4 linked regions of the Homo sapiens genome follow. The protein of the gene in region 1 purifies or fractionates together with the protein of each later gene. This does not show direct contact. Each region holds a gene or a part of one and is shown in the gene's direction. Other genes may lie near its edges.

Evidence for each region.
Region 2: the proteins of MCCC1 (region 1) and CRYBB3 purify together in Homo sapiens (co-immunoprecipitation; one large-scale study listed by IntAct). This does not show direct contact.
Region 3: the proteins of MCCC1 (region 1) and ELSPBP1 purify together in Homo sapiens (co-immunoprecipitation; one large-scale study listed by IntAct). This does not show direct contact.
Region 4: the proteins of MCCC1 (region 1) and MIPEP fractionate together in Homo sapiens (co-fractionation; one large-scale study listed by BioGRID). This does not show direct contact.

The regions. Positions count from the first base shown.
Region 1 is NC_000003.12:183,071,707-183,076,900, reverse strand, and holds part of MCCC1 (methylcrotonoyl-CoA carboxylase subunit alpha, mitochondrial isoform 1 precursor), read left to right. Parts: intron 1-4,413; coding exon 4,414-4,535; intron 4,536-5,194.
Region 2 is NC_000022.11:25,204,233-25,208,427, forward strand, and holds the end of CRYBB3 (beta-crystallin B3), read left to right. Parts: intron 1-987; coding exon 988-1,130; intron 1,131-2,814; coding exon 2,815-2,980; 3' UTR 2,981-3,127; downstream 3,128-4,195. UniProt on the Homo sapiens protein: Crystallins are the dominant structural components of the vertebrate eye lens.
Region 3 is NC_000019.10:48,014,006-48,019,199, forward strand, and holds part of ELSPBP1 (epididymal sperm-binding protein 1 precursor), read left to right. Parts: intron 1-165; coding exon 166-303; intron 304-1,887; coding exon 1,888-2,034; intron 2,035-5,194.
Region 4 is NC_000013.11:23,882,333-23,887,526, reverse strand, and holds part of MIPEP (mitochondrial intermediate peptidase), read left to right. Parts: intron 1-1,020; coding exon 1,021-1,194; intron 1,195-5,194. UniProt on the Homo sapiens protein: Cleaves proteins, imported into the mitochondrion, to their mature size.

The DNA.
Region 1 (5,194 bases):
TTATGGGGAGTGAGGAATGGCTAAGAGGCACAGGATTTCTTTTTGCAGTGTTAAAAACTTACATTATTAGATCTTAGTATTTTAGATTATAGTGATAATTGTGCGACTTTGAGTATACTAAAAATCATTGGGTTGGCCGAGTTTATGGTATATGAATTATATCTCAACAACTATGTTTAAAAAGTGCAGTAACACTATGCACCCACTAGATTGGCCAAAATCAGAAAGACTGATAGTACAACATGTGGGCAGGGATATGGATACACACTTTAAAGCATCATAAATTGCTGGTAGAAATGCAAAATAAAATCATCGCTTTAGAAAAGTTAAATGTATTCTTACCATATTAGGACCAAACAATTGCACTCCTGGGTATTTACCCAAGAGAAATGAAAAATATGTTCACACAGACTTGTCTGTGAATGTTTATAACACCGTTATTCATAATAACCACAAACTGGAAAATAATTCAAATGAATGGGTAAACAAAATGTGGTATATCCATATAACAGAATCCATATTATAAAAAGAAATGAGCTACTGACACACTCCATAACATGAATAAACCTTGAAAAATTATGTGAAGTTAAAGAAGCCAGACACATAATACTATGTACTGTATGATTCTGTTTATATGAATTTTTTTAAAGGCAAAACTATAGAGACAACAAGTCAGTTGTTGCTTGGGTATTGGGAACAGATTGCACATGGGCACATGGGAACTTTTTCAAGTGATGCAGGTGTTCTCAAACTGGATTGTAGTGATCCAATTGTAGTTGCACAATTGTATAGATTTACTAAATTCACCAAACTATAAATGCATGAATATTATGTATTATAAATCATATCTCAAAAGAAAACCCAAACCAGGGAGGACTAGGACATAGACCTGTTTCATTTGCCTAGTATAGATGTTTGACCATTTTATATAAAATACTCAAATTGTGGGAGAAAATATTTGCAAAGTTTGCATCTGACAAAAGTCTAATATCTAGCATCTATAAGGAACTTAAACAGATGTGCAAGAGAAAAACAACCCCATTAAAAAGTGGGCAAAGGACAGCCGGGCACAGTGGCTCACGTCTGTAATTCCAACACTTTGGGAGGCCGAGGCGGGCAGATCACACGGTCAGGAGATGAGACCATCCTGGCTAACATGGTGAAACCCTGTCTCTACTAAAAATACAAAAAGATTAGCAGGGCGTGGTGGCAGGCACCTGTAGTCCCAGCTACTTGGGAGGCTGAGGCAGGAGAATGGCGTGAACCTGGGAAGCAGAGGTTGCAATGAGATGAGATCATGCCACTGCACTCTAGCCTGGGTGACAGAGCAAGACTCTGTCTCAAAAAAAAAAAAAGTGGGCAAAGGACATGAACAGGCACTTCTCAAAAGAAGACATACATGTGACCAACAAACATGAAAAAAAGCTCAATATCACTGATCATTAGAGAAACGCAAATCAAAACCACAATGAGACACCATCTCACACCAGTCAGAATGGCTATTACTAAGAAGTCAAAAAAATAACAGATGTCAGGAGGTTGTGGAGAAAAGGGAACGCTTATACACTGTTGGTAGGAGTGTAAATTAGTTCAACCATTGTGGAAAGCAGCAGGGTGATTCCTCAAAGAGCTAAAAGCAAAACTGCCATTCAACCCAGCAATCCCATTACTGGTTGATACCCAGAGGAATATAAATTATTCTACCATAAAGACACATGTGCATGTATGTTCATTGCATCATTCACAATAGCAAAGTCATTGAATCAGCCTAAATGCCCATCAGTGACAGATTGGATGAAGAAAAGGTGGTACATATACACCACGGAATACTATGCAGCCATAATAAAGCATAAGATCACATCTTTTGCGGGAACATGGATGGAGCTGGAAGCTATTATCCTTAGCAAACTCCCACAGGAACAGAAAACCAAATACTGCATGTTCTCACTTAGAAGTGGGAGCTGAATGATAAGAACTTAAGAACACAAAGAAGGAAACAAAAGACACTGGGGTCTACCTGAGTGGGGAAGGTGGGAGGGAGAGGAGCAGAAAAGATAACTATTGAATACTGGGCTTAATACCTGGGTGACGAACTCTGTACAACAAACCCCTGTGACATGTATTCACCTGTGTAATCTTCACATGCACCCCAAACCTAAAATAAAAGTTAATAAAATAAAATTGAACTTTGGTTTAAAAGATATAAAACTCTAAACTGGCTGCAACATATGAGTATCCAGCATTTTATCTGTATCTGGCATTGCATTGTTTCCTGTCACTAGGATGTGGGTTTTTCTATTCGTATGAGTTTCCCAGATATGTGAAGCTTACCCCTTTAATTTTGAAATGTTCTTTGAGTGTAACTATTTTGAAACAGGATTGGCTGAACCTTTGTGTTTTTACATTGTTTTGGTCATAATTATAATACTCGCTCACATTTTAGAAGAACAAATCCCCTCAGGGCTACTGATGTTGGAGAGGGTGTGGCTTCATCACTCATTAAATCATCCAAGTCTTCTCTGCCTTTTGCCTCCTTCTGTTTCTTCCCTTTTTGCTGTCAGCGTGTTTACTTTTAGAAATCTTGCTGTCCTTCAGTTACTGAATTTCCTCTTCTGTGGGCTAAAATCCCAGTAAGTATGTTTGTTAAAATTCTGAGTACACTGGAAGTAACTAGGCTGAAGTCTGAGGGATGCCCTTTTCACTGAAAGTACACGTACAGTTGTCCCCTTTATCCACGGTTTTGCTTTGAGTGGTTTCAGTTACCTGCAGTCTACTATGGTGTGAAAATATTAAATGGAAAATTCCAGAAATCAACAATTGATAAGTTTCAAATTGCACGCCATTCTGAGTCACACAGTGAGATCTTGCACAGTCTGCTTTGTCCCTCCCAGGATGTGAATCGTCCCTTTGTCCAGTGTCTCCACGCTGTCTCCACTCCCCATCTGTTAGTCACTCAGGAGCCATCTAGGTTATCAAATTGACTGTCATGGTACCACCATGCTTGTGTTCAAGTCACCCTTATTTTATTTAAATCATGGCCCCAAAATGCAAGAGCAATGATGGTGGCAATTCACTTATGCTAAAGAGAAGCCATGAAATGCTTCTTTTAAGTGAAAAGGTGAAAATTCTCAAGGAAAGAAAAAAATATGTATGTTGAGGTTTCTTGGTTCTTGGTAAGGACCAAGTTTCTATCTGTGAAATTGTGAAGAAGGAAAAACAAATTCATGTCATTTTCCTGTTGCACCTCAAACTGCAAAACTTATGGCCACAGGGCATGGCAAGTACTTAGTTAAGATGGGAAAGGCATTACATTTGTGATTGGAAGACATGAACAGAAGCGTGGTCAAATTGGTATCAGTCCAGTTCTGTAGTATTCATAGTTTCAGGCATCCACTAGGGATCTTGGATAAGGGGACACTCCTGTAGACTTTAATACATGACTTTCATTTGCTTCTTAGCTTTTTTTCTGGAAAGATGACATTGATGACCTGAAGATAAGTGAGGTATTTATTGAGCTAGTGTTCTGTTTGGGGCTTTTGGATGCCATGATTTCAATTCTAGGCCAGTTTTACACAGAGACAGAATAGACAAATTCCCCTTACCACTCTGAAGCCCTTTACTTCTTGACATTCTACCCTAATTGCAATATTATTTTAAATTTAAGTATATAGAAACTTCTGTACCATATGATCCAGCAATTCCACTTTTGGTATACAGCTAGAAGAATTTAAAGCAGGGACTCAAAACAGATACTTGTATACCAATACTTGTTGTTCACAGCAGCAGTATTCACAATGTGTAGAAATAACACAATGTCCATCAAGAGATTAATGGATAAACAAAATGTGTACAAACTGGATATTATTCAACCTTAAAAACAAATGGAATTTTGATACATGTTACATGAATGAACCTTGAAAACATTATGCTAGGTGAAATAAGCCAAACTCAGACAAATTATTATACGCTTCCACTTACATGAGGTACTTTGGCTAGAGAAATTCATAAACAGAAAGTAAAATCCTGGTTACTAGGGACTAAGGAAAGGGAGGGAATGGAGAATTATGTTTGGAGATTAAAACATCCTGAGGATGGATGGTGATGACAGTTGCCCAACATTGTGAGTGTACTTAATGCCACTGAATTACATACTTGCAAGTAACTAAAATGGTCAGTGTTTTGCTATGTATATATTATCACAATAAAAAGAAATATAGATTCATCTGGTTTAGGTAAGCCTTCAGAGCTTTCATATGAATATTTCAGATATTTCTTTGGAAACAGAGTTTAATAGAGACCATACTATTACCAGTGTAGGGAGAGGCCTCCCAGAGGAAGACAGCTTCACCTGCATTAAGGTGTTGCCAGTTGAGCACTGATGAGTAAATTTTTTATTTTATTTCTCATTTCTAGGCTATCCATCCAGGATGCGGTTTTCTCTCAGAAAACATGGAATTTGCTGAACTTTGTAAGCAAGAAGGAATTATTTTTATAGGCCCTCCTCCATCTGCAATTAGAGACATGGGTATAAAGAGGTATGAGTTTATATCTTTTAAAATATAACTGTATGAAGGTCAGTTGAAATAGTTTGGGCCAGGCATGTGGCTATGCCTGTAATACCAGTGTTTTGGGAGACTGAGGCAGGAGGATAGCTTGAGGCCAGGAATTCAAGACCAGCCTGGGCAACTTAGTGAGACCTTGTCTCTCAAAATTCTTTTTTTTAAATCAGCCAGGCCTGGGCACAGTGGCTCACACCTGTAATCCCAGCACTTTGGGAGGCCAAGGTGGGAGGATCACTTGAGCCCAGAAGTTTAAGACCAGCCTGGGCAACACAGGGAGACCCTGTCTCTACAAAATTTTTTAAAAATTCCAGGCATGGTGGCACGTGCCTGTGGGTCCAGCATCTTGGGAGGCTGAGGTGGGAGGATTGCTTGAGCCCAGGAGATCAAGGCTGCAGTGAGCTGTGATCACACCATCATACTTCAGTCTGGGTGACAGAGTAAGACCCCATCTCAAAAAAAAAAAAAAAAATTCAGCTGGGTATGGTGACACACACCTGTAGTCCCAGCTGCTTAGGAGGCTGAGGCAGAAGGATCACTTGAGCTCAGAAGTTTAAGGCTGTAGTGAAGTATAATTGCACCACTGCACTCTGGCATGGGCAACATTGTGAGACCCTGTCTCTAAAAAAAAAAAA
Region 2 (4,195 bases), on another chromosome or scaffold:
AGAAAGTAGCCAAAATACTTTAAGTTCTCCACTTGTGTTTTTCTAGCACCTGAAAGGGACACAGTCCACAGTGACACTTTTTATTTATTTGTTTATTTATTTATTTTTCGAGACAGACTCCTGCTCTGTCACCCATGCTGGAGTGCAGTCTTTCTCTCTCTCTCTTTTTAAACATTTTTATTTATGTATTTTTATTTCATTTTGAGTTGCAGTCTCGCTCTGTCACCCAGGCTGGAGTGCAGTGGCATGATCTCTGCTCACTGCAACCTCTGCCTCCTGGGTTCAAGTGATTCTCCTGCCTCAGCCTCCTGAGTAGCTGGGACTGAAGGCACATGCCACCACGCTGGGCTAATTTTTGTATTTTTAGTAGAGGTGGCGTTTTGCCATGTTGGCAAAGCTGGTCTTGAACTTCTGGCCTCAAGTGATCTGCCTGCCTCGGCCTCCCAAAGTACTGGGATTACAGGCCTGAGCCACCACGCCCGGCCCACAGTGACACTTTAAACACCACCCTTCTCCCTCCCCTGCTTCACTCACACCCCGCAGCTGCTCCAGCCCTTTCTCTTTGTCACATAACTGAGTCCTCCTTAGAGGGCAGTGGAAGAGGGGAAACTGGGAAGATTAAACCGGCATCTGGTTAGGAAAGAGGGAAAGCTCATATGTTGATACTTTTGATCTCTGTCCACCCTCTCCTGGCCTCAGTTTCTCTATCATTTAAATGATGGGATTGAACAAGATCTGGAAATTCCTTTTCAGTTTTATAATCTACGGCTCTAGGTTCCTAAATCAACCAGCTTTGGAGGAATCTCCCCGTCCCTCCTACAGTGAATTTGGGGGTGGAGGCATCTCCTGAGGCCCTTCCCTCCTGCAGCAGGTTTGGGGGTGGGTGTTATTTTGTGGTGACCTGTTGATTCTTTCCGGCATCTGGAGCCTCCTTGACCTCTGTTCTGGATATGGGAGCAGCCGCTCACCCCACGATATTGCCCTCAGGATAGTCCACATCACAAGCTGCATCTGTTTGAGAACCCAGCTTTCAGTGGCCGCAAGATGGAGATAGTGGATGATGACGTGCCCAGCCTGTGGGCTCATGGCTTCCAGGACCGTGTGGCGAGTGTCCGTGCCATCAACGGGACGTAAGGGACCCAACCCTCACCCTTGCCCCATCTTCTGGTCAGCCATGCCTCTGGCTCCAAACAGAATCAGTGCCCATAGTTTCTTATTATTTTATTTATTTATTTATTTATTTTTGAGACGGAGTCTTGCTCTGTCGCCCAGGCTGGAGTGCAGTGGCGCGATCTCAGCTCACTGCAAGCTCCGCCTCCCGGGTTCATGCCATTCTCCTGCCTCAGCCTCCCGAGTAGCTGGGACTACAGGCGCCCACGACCACGCCCGGCTAAGTTTTTGTATTTTTAGTAGAGACGGGGTTTCACCGTGTTAGCCAGGATGGTCTCAATCTCCTGACCTCATGATCTGCCCGCCTCGGCCTCCCAAAGTGCTGGGATTACAGGTGTGAGCCACGGCGCCCGGCCATCGGTGCCTATAGTTTCTTGCATGATTCATGTTCCCTGCACTCCTGTACTGTTGAGATTTCTAGGCAGCCTTGACTTAAAACAAGTAAAATCTGTTCTCTCCACCTGTTCCCATCTGAGTCCTTCCTGCTTTTTTAAACATCCCCACACCCTTGAACTGATTCTTGAAATGTTCTTCCCCCTCACAACTCTTGTTCTTCTTAACAAGGGGCCCAGGATGTATGCAGTTATTGAGATGTGACACAAGTTGTACAGAGGAGAGCAGGCTTATCACCTCCCTCTTTCTAGGCTTAATATCACCGTTGATGCAGTCTTAGGATCACCTGCTTTTTGTAGGTGGTTACATCTCACTTGTGGGCTTGTAATCTGGGGTTGGGCCTTGAGAGGTGCCACCTATCCCTGATAATAATTTATTCAACAATTTTTTACTGAACATCTACTATATGCTGGTGTGCTGATACAGAGAACAACAAGAATGGCACATCCTCTGGCCCTCAAAAAATTTGCGTAGTCTGGGGCTCACGCCTGTAATCCCAGCACTTTGGGAGGCCGAAGTGGGCGGATCACCTGAGGTCAGGAGTTCATGACCAGCCTGACCACCACGGAGAAACCCCGTCTCTACTAAAAATACAAAATTAGCCGGGCATGGTGGCGCATGCCTGTAATCCCAGCTACTCAAGAGGCTGAGGCAGGAGAATCACTTGAACCTGGGAGGTGGAGGTTGTAGTGAGCCGAGATCACGCCACTGCACTCCAGCCTGAGCAACAAGAGCGAAACTCCATCTAAAAAAAGAAAAATTACATAGTTTGATGGAGAGACAGACAAAGTAACAGGTATTCACAACGTATTGTGATCAGGATTGGGACTGGGATGCACAAGGGGCTCTGGGAGTCCCAGTGAGGTACTCGATTCAGCCTGCAGGAGTCTGGAGACATCTAAATTGAGCTGTAATGGATGCAAGTGGAAAAAAGGGGGAAGGAGAGGGATGAGGTGAGCAAGAGTGTTCCAGGCAGAAGGAATCATGCATACAAAGGCCCCCCAACACAGCAGGTTCCGGGAAAGTAGAATAAGAGAGGCCACGGTGTTGAGTGTGAATGGGATGTTGAGAGATAAGGCTAGAGATGCTTTGTTAAGGGTCCTGTGAGCAGGGTAAAGAGTTTGGATTCATCCCAAGGGCTCTGGGGAGCTAAAGAGGAATGTAGGCAGGCAGAGTGCATGGTCAGATGCTGGCTGGAGGCAGGGTGACTGGAAGCAGACCGTCCACATCTCAACCTTGGTCTCCCGGCAGGTGGGTTGGCTATGAGTTCCCCGGCTACCGTGGGCGCCAGTACGTGTTTGAGCGGGGCGAGTACCGCCACTGGAATGAGTGGGACGCCAGCCAGCCGCAGCTGCAGTCTGTGCGCCGCATCCGTGACCAGAAGTGGCACAAGCGGGGCCGCTTCCCCAGCAGCTGAAAGGCACCCAGACTTCAAGGACCCAGACCCACCCTGGGGGGCTGCAAGGGCAAGAAGAGGAGGCTCCAGGGTTGGGGCGAGGGCCGACCTGTCCACCCTTCCCTGGAATCTGCTCAATAAAGCCTGGGGTTGGTCCCCCACCCGCCACGTTCCTCGGCATCACTTCCTGAGGGAGCCAGGCCTGGGGCGGGACCTGTGGGAGAGGCGTGCTGAAGGAGGCTGGGGCTTGAGTGTTCTGAGACTCCCAGGAAGGGGCTGGGAAATTTGCCCATATCCTAGGCTCTAATCCTTTCAGGCAGAGCCATGTGCCCCTACTGCCCTGATCTTGTGTTTGTCTGCTGCTGCATGTTTCCATCTGAATGTCTGTCAGTCTGCCCATCCACTCACCCATCCATCCATCATCCTTCCACCCACCCACCCACCCATTCATCCACCCATTCACCCACTCATGTGCCCATCCATTCGTCTACTCACCCATCCATCCATCCATCCACCCACCCATTCATCCACCCATTCACCCACCCATGTGCCCATCCATTCATCTACTCACCCATCCATCCATCCACCCACCCACCCATCTACCCATTCATTCATCCATCCAACTACCTACCACCCATTCATCCATCCATGCATCCATCCATCCATCCATTCATCCACCCACTTACCCATCCATCCATTCATTCTTCCTTCCATCTTCCTATATTTGTTCTTTCCATTAATTCATCCATTTTTCCTTCCACTCACGCATCTTTCTATCTATCCTTTTATCCACTTATCCATCAATTTTTCTTTCAATCTACTTGTCCATCAATGTGTCCATCTGATCTTCCTTCCTTCCTTCCTTTCTTCCCTCCTTCCTTCCATTCATCTATCCATTATTTCCCCTTCCACCTCTCTGTGGGTCAGTCTCTGTTGTCATTAATGTATTCAGCAAATGCCATGCCCTGTTCAGTGTATTCAGCAAATGCCATGCCCTGTTCAAGGCCTAAGGACAGGGCACAATGTCCTGCCCTCCAGGTTCTCACCTTCTGTGGGAGAGACAGAAAGTAAATAAACAGGTCGATGAGGGCTATAATGTTGGGAGGCGGTAAATACCAAGAACAATAAAGCTGGATAAAAATATGGAAGTGATGGGGGTGGTGGCCAGGAAACTCTGTGCAAAGGAGCCGAGTCCTCAGTGAACCACCAGAACATTCCAGGCAGAGAAATAACAGG
Region 3 (5,194 bases), on another chromosome or scaffold:
CTCGTACCATGACCGTGGGGGTTAGGATTTTAACATATGAATTTTGCGGCGGGGGCAGGGAGGGAACACGGACATTCATATTAAAGCAAGAGCCAAACCAAGACTCATCCTTTGCTAATTCATCGTGATTCTTCCCCACTCCTGTTTTCTCCTTCTGCCCTTCAGGGATGCATGAGGAATGTGTCTTTCCTTTCACCTACAAGGGATCTGTTTACTTCACTTGCACCCATATTCATAGCTTATCCCCTTGGTGTGCCACCAGAGCCGTGTACAACGGCCAGTGGAAGTACTGCCAGAGTGAAGGTGAGTGGTATCACATTGTCCCTGCCAGTGGCCTTTGAATAGGGTGGATCACAAAAGAGAATGTGTGACTGTCTATGACATGATCACATTTTTGCAGACAAACGGTAATACGTATGCGTGCGTAGAAAAGGCTCTGGGTTTTAATGATCGCCATTCTAACTTGTGTGAGAACACATGGACACAGGAAGGGGAACATCACACACCGGGGACTGTTGTGGGGTGGGGGGCGGGGGGAGGGATAGCATTAGGAGATATACCTAATGCTAAAGACGAGTTAATGGGTGCAGCACACCAGCATGGCACATGTATACATATGTAACAAACCTGCACATTGTGCACATGTACCCTAAAACTTAAATTATAATAATAATAAAATTTAAAAAAATCAGTGATAATGTAATGGGTAATAAATGATATATAATTACTGTTTTTAATTTCCACAAATAAAAAAAAAAGAAAAAGAAAAGGCTCTGGGATGCCTGACAATGAATGCTAATAATGGGTAATAATGTTAATAATGCTAGTGTTAAAAATAGTGCTCTCTGGATGAGGGTCTTGTGATACTGTAAGACTAGTTGACCCAATAGAACCATCCCATCTTTATGCCTTTCTTAATTTTCTAAGTTAATAAGGAAAAAGGAAACGAAGTGTAAGAAACGGGATTTGAGGCTGGGCGAGGTGGCTCATGCCTGTAATCCCAGCAAAACTTAACTACTAATAGCCTGCTATTGACGAGACGGCTTACCAGTAACATAAACTGTCAATTAACACATATGTTTTATGTCTTATGTATTATATACCGTATCTCATAATAAAGGAAACTAGAGAAAAGAAAATGTTAATAAGAAAATGGTAAAAAGGAGGAAATATGTTTGCTATCCATTAAGTGGGAATGGATCAGCATAAAGGTCATTAGCATCATCTTCATGTTGAGGAGGAGGAGGAAGAGGAAGGGTTGGTCTCACCATCTTGGGATGACAGAGGCAGAAGCAATGGAGGAGGTGGAAGGGGAGGCAGGAGAGACAGACACATTCAACATAACTTTTTTTGAAAAACACCCATGCCCACTGGGCACAGTGGCTCATGCCTGTAATCCCAGCACTTTGGGAGGCCGAGGCGGGTGGATCACCTGAGGCCAGGAGTTCGAGACCAGCCTGGGCAACATGGCGACACCCCATCTCTACTAAAAATTAAAAAAAATTAGCTGGGTGTGGTGGCAGGCATCTGTAATCCCAGCTACTCGGGAGGCTGAGGCAGGAGAATTGCTTGAACCCAAGAGGCAGAGGTTGCAGTGAGCCAAGATCTCGCTATTGCACTCTAATCTGGGCAACAGAGTGAGACTCTGTCTCGAAAAAAAGAAAAGAAAAGAAAAGAAACTCACATATAAGTGGACCCGAGTTCAAACTTGTGTTGTTCAAGAATCAGATGTATATGGCATAGGCAAATGCTTGATGAAATAATGCATAAAGTCTCTTCTGAACCTTATGTCTGTCCTGTCCTATGATGGTTGATTGATGATTAAATGACTCTGTCCTGTGAACGACTAGAGGAAGTTAAGACACTCACGAACTCTGTTCCTAACAGATTACCCACGCTGTATCTTCCCTTTCATCTATCGAGGAAAGGCTTATAACAGCTGCATCTCCCAGGGCAGCTTCTTAGGCAGTCTGTGGTGCTCAGTCACCTCTGTCTTCGATGAGAAACAGCAGTGGAAATTCTGTGAAACGAATGGTGAGCCCCTGTAGCAGGGATGGGATGTGTGGTGGGAGGGAGAGTGGACAGCATGGATCCTCCTGAGGGGAGGCTGGGCAAGGTAGAGACCAGAGCACCCAGGGGGAAGTACTTACAGGAGCCAAGTGTCTGCTCAGAGAGTTCGCTATGACAACGACAGACAGGGGTATCCCGAGGCCATTCGCCCAGTCCCCAGTCCAGCATGAAAAGACAGGAGTCCTGAGAACTGAAACAATGAGCTGAAGTCCTGATATTGGCTTCTGAGTATTTCTGTTTCTAGAACTGACAATAGTGAGATTCACCCACTGATGGACCCAAACTGCCTTTTCTTTCCTTCCTTCCTTCCTTGCTTCCTTCCTTCCTTTCCTTTCTTTCCTTTCCTCCCTCCCTTCCTCCCTCCCTCCCTTTTCTCTTTCTTTTCTTTCCTTCTTTCTTTCTTTCTTTCTTTCTTTCTTTCTTTCTTTCTTTCTTTCTTTCTTTCTTTCTTTCTTCCTTCCTTCCTTCCTTCCTTCCTTCCTTCCTTCCTTCCTCCCTTCATCTCTCTCTTTCTTTCTTTTTCTCTTTCTTTCTTCTGTTTTTTACAGGGTCTTGCTCTGTCACTCAGGCTGGAGTGCAGTGGAATGATCTCAGGTCACTGCAACCTCTGCCTCCCAGGTTCAAAGGATTCTCCTGCCTCAGCCTCCTGAGTAGCTGGGATTGCAGGCGCCCACCACCACACCCAGCTAATTTTTGTATTTTTAGCAGGCACGGGGTTTCACCATGTTGGCCAGGCTGGTCTTGAACTCCTGGTCTCAGGTGATCCATCCGCCTCGGCCTCCCAAAATGCTAGGATTACAGGCATGAGGCACTGTGCCTGGCCCTGACCTGCATTTCAATGCAGCCTAACATCATATTAAGTCTACACATAATCTTAGGTGAATAATGACCAAAATTCATTGAATGTCCTCTCTGTCCTACACTGATCCAAGAGCTTTGTATACAATATCCTGTTGAATCTTTCCATAGCAGCTCTATGAGCTGCTGCTCGCCACCACCTGTTCAATAAATGGTCCCAGTATAACTGAGCCCTTCCCAAGGTCACAGTCCTACACTATATTAGAATTAGAGCTTGAGTTCTAGTCCATATAGTTCCAAAGCCCATGCTCTCTCCTTAAGCATTGTTGCGTCCACAGAGACAAAGATGTGTGAAGGCAGTTATTCGTAGGCATGCTTACTCTTGCGTAAAAATCTTAATTCTGTTGTTCCCTTAGCACTCAACAAATCCTAATTCCATCTAAACCTTAATTTTATTCTAGCCCTAATCATCCACCATTTGTGTTCTTTACTATAAACAAAACTTAACCTTAAATCTCACTATAGCTTTGTCCTAGTAGTTAACCTAATCTTTCATCCCAAGTCCAACTCTTTCTCCATTTCCATTCCTAACTCTAAATTGTATCATTAATACATACATTCCATCATTAATAAATACATTAATAATATACTCTGTCATTAATACATCATTAATTCATAACCTTAGCCATTTCTTAACCCTAAACCAAATAGATGAATTAGGAAAGGTATCAGTGAGACCAGGCTCAGTGGCTCATGCCTGTAATCCCAAAAGGGATTGGGAGGCTGAGGCAGGAGAATTGCCTGAGGCCAGGAATTTGAGACCAGCCTAGGCAACATAGGAAGACCCGCTCTGTAAAAACAAGAATTAAAAAATTAACTGATCATGGTGGTGCGTGCCTGTAGTCCCAGCTACTTGGGGAGGCTGAGGTGGGAGGATTCCTTGAGCCCAGGAGTTTGAGGCTGCAGTGAGCTATGATCACATCATGGCATTCCAGCCTGGGCAACAGAGTGAGATCTTGTCTCAAAAAAAAAAAAAAAAAAAAAAAAGGAGGAAAAGAAACATCACTTTTGTGGTAATATAACCTTAATATCTAAGCTCCTGTTTATCCTTAAAACTATCCAATCTCCTTAGACCCAGTTTTGATGGAGTAACAGATTCAAATTTGCATAAATCACCAAACGGATGTCCAAGAAGAGATACCTTTTAGCTTTGGCTTCCCCATTAGGTTAAGAAAGTTGTTGATTATTTCCTTTCTATGGATAAGTGAGAACCAAGACCACCCATGGCTGCATGCTACTGTCTCCATGAACATAGCTTTACCGCTTCACAGTCATCATCAACTTGACTCTACTAACCCAGGAAATTCGTGCCTGGGAAGTCACTTTTATTATCTGCAAAATGAGAATGCTAAGGCTGGCATCACAGGGTTTTTGTAAAGACTGGAGTTTATTTTCATGCAGGATTGATGGTGATGCCATACCAGGTACCCAAGAAATGTGAGCTTTCTTCTGCTATCATCTGAGACACTAGGCAAAAAAATGGGCTTTGAAGTTAGACCCGAGTTGGAATTCTGTTGTTTCCCTTACCATCTATGTGATCTTGGACACATTAGATCATAGAAGTAATAATTATCATAACATAATGAACTTTTAATAAGCATTTTCTATGTGCCAGGCAGTATTTTAAGTGCTTCACATGAAATAACTCATCTATTCCATACAATAATCTCTATCAGGTAAATGTGATTATTAGCCCAGTTTTACACATGGACAAACTGAGGTTAATAGAAGCAAAGCTGTGATTTTGATCCCAGGAAGTCTAACCTTCAGAATTTGTGCTCTTAATCACCAGTCATTACTGCCTGAAAACCCCAACCCCTTAGTCAAATTCTAGCTCCCCATGAAAGACCACCAAAGGAAATTAAAAAAAAAAGCCTGCTAATTAGGCAAGACTGAGTTTATTGCTCACTTCCTTGACAGCATCTTAATAACGTCTTGGGCTGGGCGTGGTGGCTCATGCCTGTAATCCCAGCACTGTGGGAGGCCGAGGCAGGTGAATCACCTGAGGTCAGGAGTTCAAGACCTGCCTGGCCAACATGGTGAAACCCCTTCTCTAATAAAAATAGAAAAATTAGCGACGCATGGTGGTGCATGCCTGTAATCTCAGCTACTCGGGAGGCTGAGGCAGAAGAATCTCTTGAACCCGGGAAGTGGAGGTTGCAGTGAGCCGAGATCGTACCACTGCACTCCAGCCTGGTTGACAGAGAAAGACTCCATCTAAAAAAATAAAAAATAACGTCTCGAAGTGGGGAGGGAAAACTCAGCA
Region 4 (5,194 bases), on another chromosome or scaffold:
TGGAAAAGTGTGGGCTTTACAGATGTACAGAGCGGGTTCGAGTTCTGTCTTTCCCAATATTAATTTGTGACCTCAAACAAGTTTTTTCTAACGTCTTAAAGCATGTGGCCTGATCTGTAAAAGAATGATACTCTGTTCTGTAGGATTGTGTGATTTAAATGAGAACCTATGTAAAGTAGCAGGCACACTTCATGGTATGCAGTAGGTGCATATTAAATGCTTTTTCCCCCTGCCTTCCTGAGTGTGCTAACAAGTGTGATTGAATAGGTAACAAGAGAATGGTCATTACCATTAGATCAGTGATTTTTGTTTTTATCAAGATATTGAAATGTCTTTGTAACGTATAAAATTTGCTCCCAGTTTCAGCCTATGATTTTAATATGTTCATTACATTTTTCTAAAATATCTATTGCTTCATAGTCAACTCATCCTCCCTATTTGATAGTTATAGAATAATTGGTACTATGTACTGAGATCTCACCTTGTCAGCTGCTGCTGTTAGTACTTTACATATACTTATTACCTGTATCCATGCTGTAAGGTATGTATCGTCATTCCCATTGTACATGATGAAAAAAATATTTCTCCTAGGAGGAGAAATAACATGACCAGGGTTATAAGCTAATAATAATTATGGCTAACATCTATAAATGCTCTGTGCCAAACACTGCTTTATGTATATATATATATATATTTACATATATGATCTCATTTAATCTTTGCGGCCACTCTTAGGTTCTGTAGAAGTGACAGCTGGATTTTGAACCCATACCATTGTTGTTGTTGTTTTTTCCGGAAAATAATTAAAAATTGAAGAAAAATTATGTTCTGAAAACATTTTTAGTGTAATTTATGTGGAGTGATATGGGGAGTATGATAGTGGTATCTGTGATCACAGGTATAACATGATACACCAATGAAAGTCAAGATCTCCTTTGTGATAAAAGTAATTTTAGTAAATATAAAAAAAGCACAATTTTGAATTTTGGTTATAAATCAGACGTATTCTTTGGTTCTAAGGGTCTTTTTGGAGTTCCTGAGCTGAGTGCCCCAGAAGGATTTCATATTGCACAAGAAAAAGCCTTGAGAAAGACAGAATTGCTTGTGGACCGTGCATGTTCCACCCCACCTGGGCCCCAGACCGTGCTGATCTTCGATGAGCTCTCGGATTCCTTATGCAGAGTGGCCGACTTGGTAAGGTGCTTTACCTCAGACTTGAAGCTACCTCTCTTTCAACTTGTTAAAATTTAAGTGAAATTTATCCTTTGTTGTTTACTATTAATATTAGATTATAAAGTTAAAAATGTCTGAAACTGAGATCCATTGGGTATAATTTTTTATGATGAAATATGTCATTAGGAATGGGAAAATATTATAGGAAAAGGTGATATTTAGAACTTGTACTTTAATACGTATGTTTAATAAAATATACATGTAATATATAATGAATGAATACTAATATAGCAAATATTTGCTATATTTGGGTAATATATATTTACATATATATTCATTTGACAGAGATTCTTCATTTATGAAAGTGTCTCCCAAAATTCTAAGAACACTTTATGTGTACATTTACAACAAAATTCCCCTTTTTCTTTTTTTTTTTTTTTTAATAGAGACAGGGTCTCCCTGTGTTGCCCGGGCTGATCTTGAACTCCTAGCCCCAAGTGAACCTCCTGCCTCGGCCTCCCAAAGTGCTGGGATTATAAGTGTGAGCCACTTCTTTTTCATAAGAGGTGTGAAAACCAGTTTTAATAAACCTTTTCAGGAATGCTTTTTTTTTTTTAATTAAAAACCAAGTTTTGACATCAAAATGATTGTAAAGACTTTTTTTTTTTAACATTTTAAATTTGAAATAGAAGTGTATACCTAGATCTCTTCAGCAACTAGGAAATCCATTGCTGAGATAGCAAAATTTTCTTTTTTTTTTATTTTTAATTTTTGTGGGTACATGTATATATTCATGAGGTACATGAGATGTTTTGATAGAGGCATGCAATGCATAGTAATTACATCAGGGAAAATGGGGTATCCATCCCCTCAAGCATTTATCCTTTCTGTTACAAACAATCCAATTATACTCTTCTGGTTATTTTAAAATCTACAATTAAATTATTATTGACTGTAGTCACCCTGTTGTGCTATCGAATAGTAGGTCTTACTCAATCTTCCTGTTTTTTTGTAGCCATTAACCATCCCCACCTCCCCCATGCCACCCTGCTACCCTACCTAGCCTCTGGTAACCATCCTTCTACTCTTTATTTCCATGATTCAGTTGTATCTATTTTTAGGTCCCACAAGTGAGTGAGAACATGTGATGTTTGTCTTTCTGTGCCTGACTTATTTCACTAAACATAATGACCATCCATGTTGTTGAAAATGACATAATCTCATTCTTTTTTATGGCTGAATAGCATTCCATTGTGTGTAAGTACCATACTTTCTTTATCCATTCATCTGTTCATGGACAGTTGGGTTGCTTTCTCATCTTGGATGTTGTGAACAGAGCTGCAGCAAACATGGAAGTGCAGATATCTCTTCGATATACTCATTTCCAGGAAGCAGGGTTTCCTATCAGCTTGAAGGAGCTGACTCTTGGTTACTCTTGTCAAGGAAAGCAGCACACACAATTTAAATAGTGATCATTTATGATCCTGTCTACATGGTATAGAACTGCATAGGTTTTTCCCTCACATTCAGTCAATGTTGAGCACGTACTGTGTGCCAGACACTGTCTAGGCATGAGGGATACATGCAGGAATGAAACAGACACAATCTGTTACTTCATGGAGTTTATATTCTGGCATTAACTTGTTTTTGGAAATTTAACTAGACTGTAGGCCCTTTCTACAGCCTAGTTAGCTGAAGAAGCTTTCCCTGGATGAGCTGAGGTAACCTTCTCAGCATATCTCCATTTTCACAAGAGGGAAGAAAGGCACTGGGTGATGAAGGGATGTGCCCGCTGTCAGCTGGCCAGCGTGTGGTGCAGCTGGGCTGCCAGCCCAGGCAGGGTATCTGTCGAGCTCTTCTTCTTTCTCCTGTTCCAACCATTTCAGGGCTGGCTGGCTGCTCAGGTCTCATGAATCCTTACCTGGAAAGGTTGCAAAGTTTGTTAGCCTCTCCATCTTTAAAAAAAATGTATACTTGTTTTTAAAATTATTATTCTGTAAAATTGACTTCTTTTGGAGGATGGTACAGTTCTATGAATTTTAACTCGTATAAATTTGTGCAGCCCTCACCACAATCAGGATACAAAGCTGTTCCATCCACCCCCAAAAATCTCCCTGTAGTCACACCCCCCCCTCCCCACTAACCTCTGGCAACCACTAATCTGTTCTCTCTCCCTATAGTTTTGCCTTTTCTAGAATGTCACATAGGTGGAATCCTGTATACCTTTGACTGACTTCTTTCACCCAGCATAACTCATCCCCATCTTTATTTTTTTTCCTTTTTTGGAAAATTTCCTTCCACCCATACAACTGATTTGAGCATTAACACCTTTCAGATGATTATATGTTCACCACAAGCCTCCCGCTCTTAAGAAAACTGATAAAGTATCTTACTGTAAAGGGTTTTTCCCTGGAGTGAAGTTGCAGGCTCTGAGTAGTTCTGTTGTACTGGGTTTTTGTTCTGTGCCTCCAGTATGTGCATAGGAAATGTGTCTTTGAATGATGGGGAAGCTGTGGAAACGCACTGCCAAAAGGAGGTTTCATACCCTGTTCACCTAATTGTGTCACAGAAATCAGAAAAGGAAAATCTGTGTCAGTGAATTTCACTGTATCGTCAACCCTCCAGATTGGGGGATCTGTGGAGTCAACCAACCTTGGATCAAAAATATTTGGAAAAAAAATTTGCATTCATACTGAACATGTACAGACTTTCTTTTCTTGTCACTGTTCCATAAAACAATACAGTGTATCAGCTATTTACATATTGTTTACATTCATTAGGTATTACAAGTAATCTAGATATGATTTGATGTATGGGGTGTGCTGTGTGTCGGTTATATGCAAGTACTACACCATTTTATATCAGAGACTTGAGCATCTGTGGATTCGGGTATCTGTGGGAGGATCAAACCATTGTCCATTGATACTGAGGGGTGACTTGGCGTGGCTGTCACAAATCCCAGAATTCACTGTGTATTTGTTGTCTTAGTCTTCATCTTAATCAGTATTCTAGGATTTTTTTCTACATTTTTGCTTTTGATCTTCACTAAAAGATTTTAACTTCTCTGCGCTATATCTTATTTTGACATTTTTAGTATTTATCATGTATAATAATATCTCATTTTGAAAACTTAAAAAAAAAAGATGTGATTTGTATATGTAGTTCTCTGGGTATAAAAGAACCTTTCTCTGTTCTGAATTTTTAAGATATTACCTGCCAGTAAGATTATCTGAATTTTTAATATCTTAAAAATATCTGAATTTTTAAGATATTACCTGCCAGTGAGATTAGTACTGTTATAAGGCAATCGTTTTATAAACTGTTTTTCACCAAATAGTCATTTTATTTTGTTTTCTTTTTTAATACAGTTTTTATGTAACAACTGTTTTCCTCATCACTATTACAAATCAGTTTTTAATATGTATGCTAGTGTTTTGAATTTTAATATTGATTATAAATTCACAACCCGTAGATTAGTAATTTGTAAAAAAAAAATGTTGTAAATTTACATAACTCATTTTTCAGGTACTTTGGTACTAATGTTATTTTATCGTTACCAATTGTTACAACAAATATACCAAACTATGGATTTAAATGTTTTGGCATTAAAAACTATTTGATAATAAAATTAAGAAATTTTATCTTGTGGTGATTTTATTTCATGTTATAGTCACATTTTCTTGGCAAATAAAATATGTAGTGTTTTGTAGTTTCTCTGCTTTTTGTTACAGTTGACATGAAAACAAAAATTTAGTTTTACATCATTTTATCTTTTTAAAAAAGAACTGTCACTCATTTTAATGTCTAATGACTTAAGTAGCAGCAGCAGTAGTAGCTGTATACAGTATTACATGGAGACTACGAACTCATATTTTATTGAAAGGACTATGAAGAGACCGTGCCTTTGTTTTCTGCACAAAGACTACCATGTAGTTAAATCAAAGACTAGAATGTAGTTAAATGGGTTTTGAAACTATACTATGTGTCAGTTAAAAAAAAAAGCCTTTAAGAGTTGTTTTCT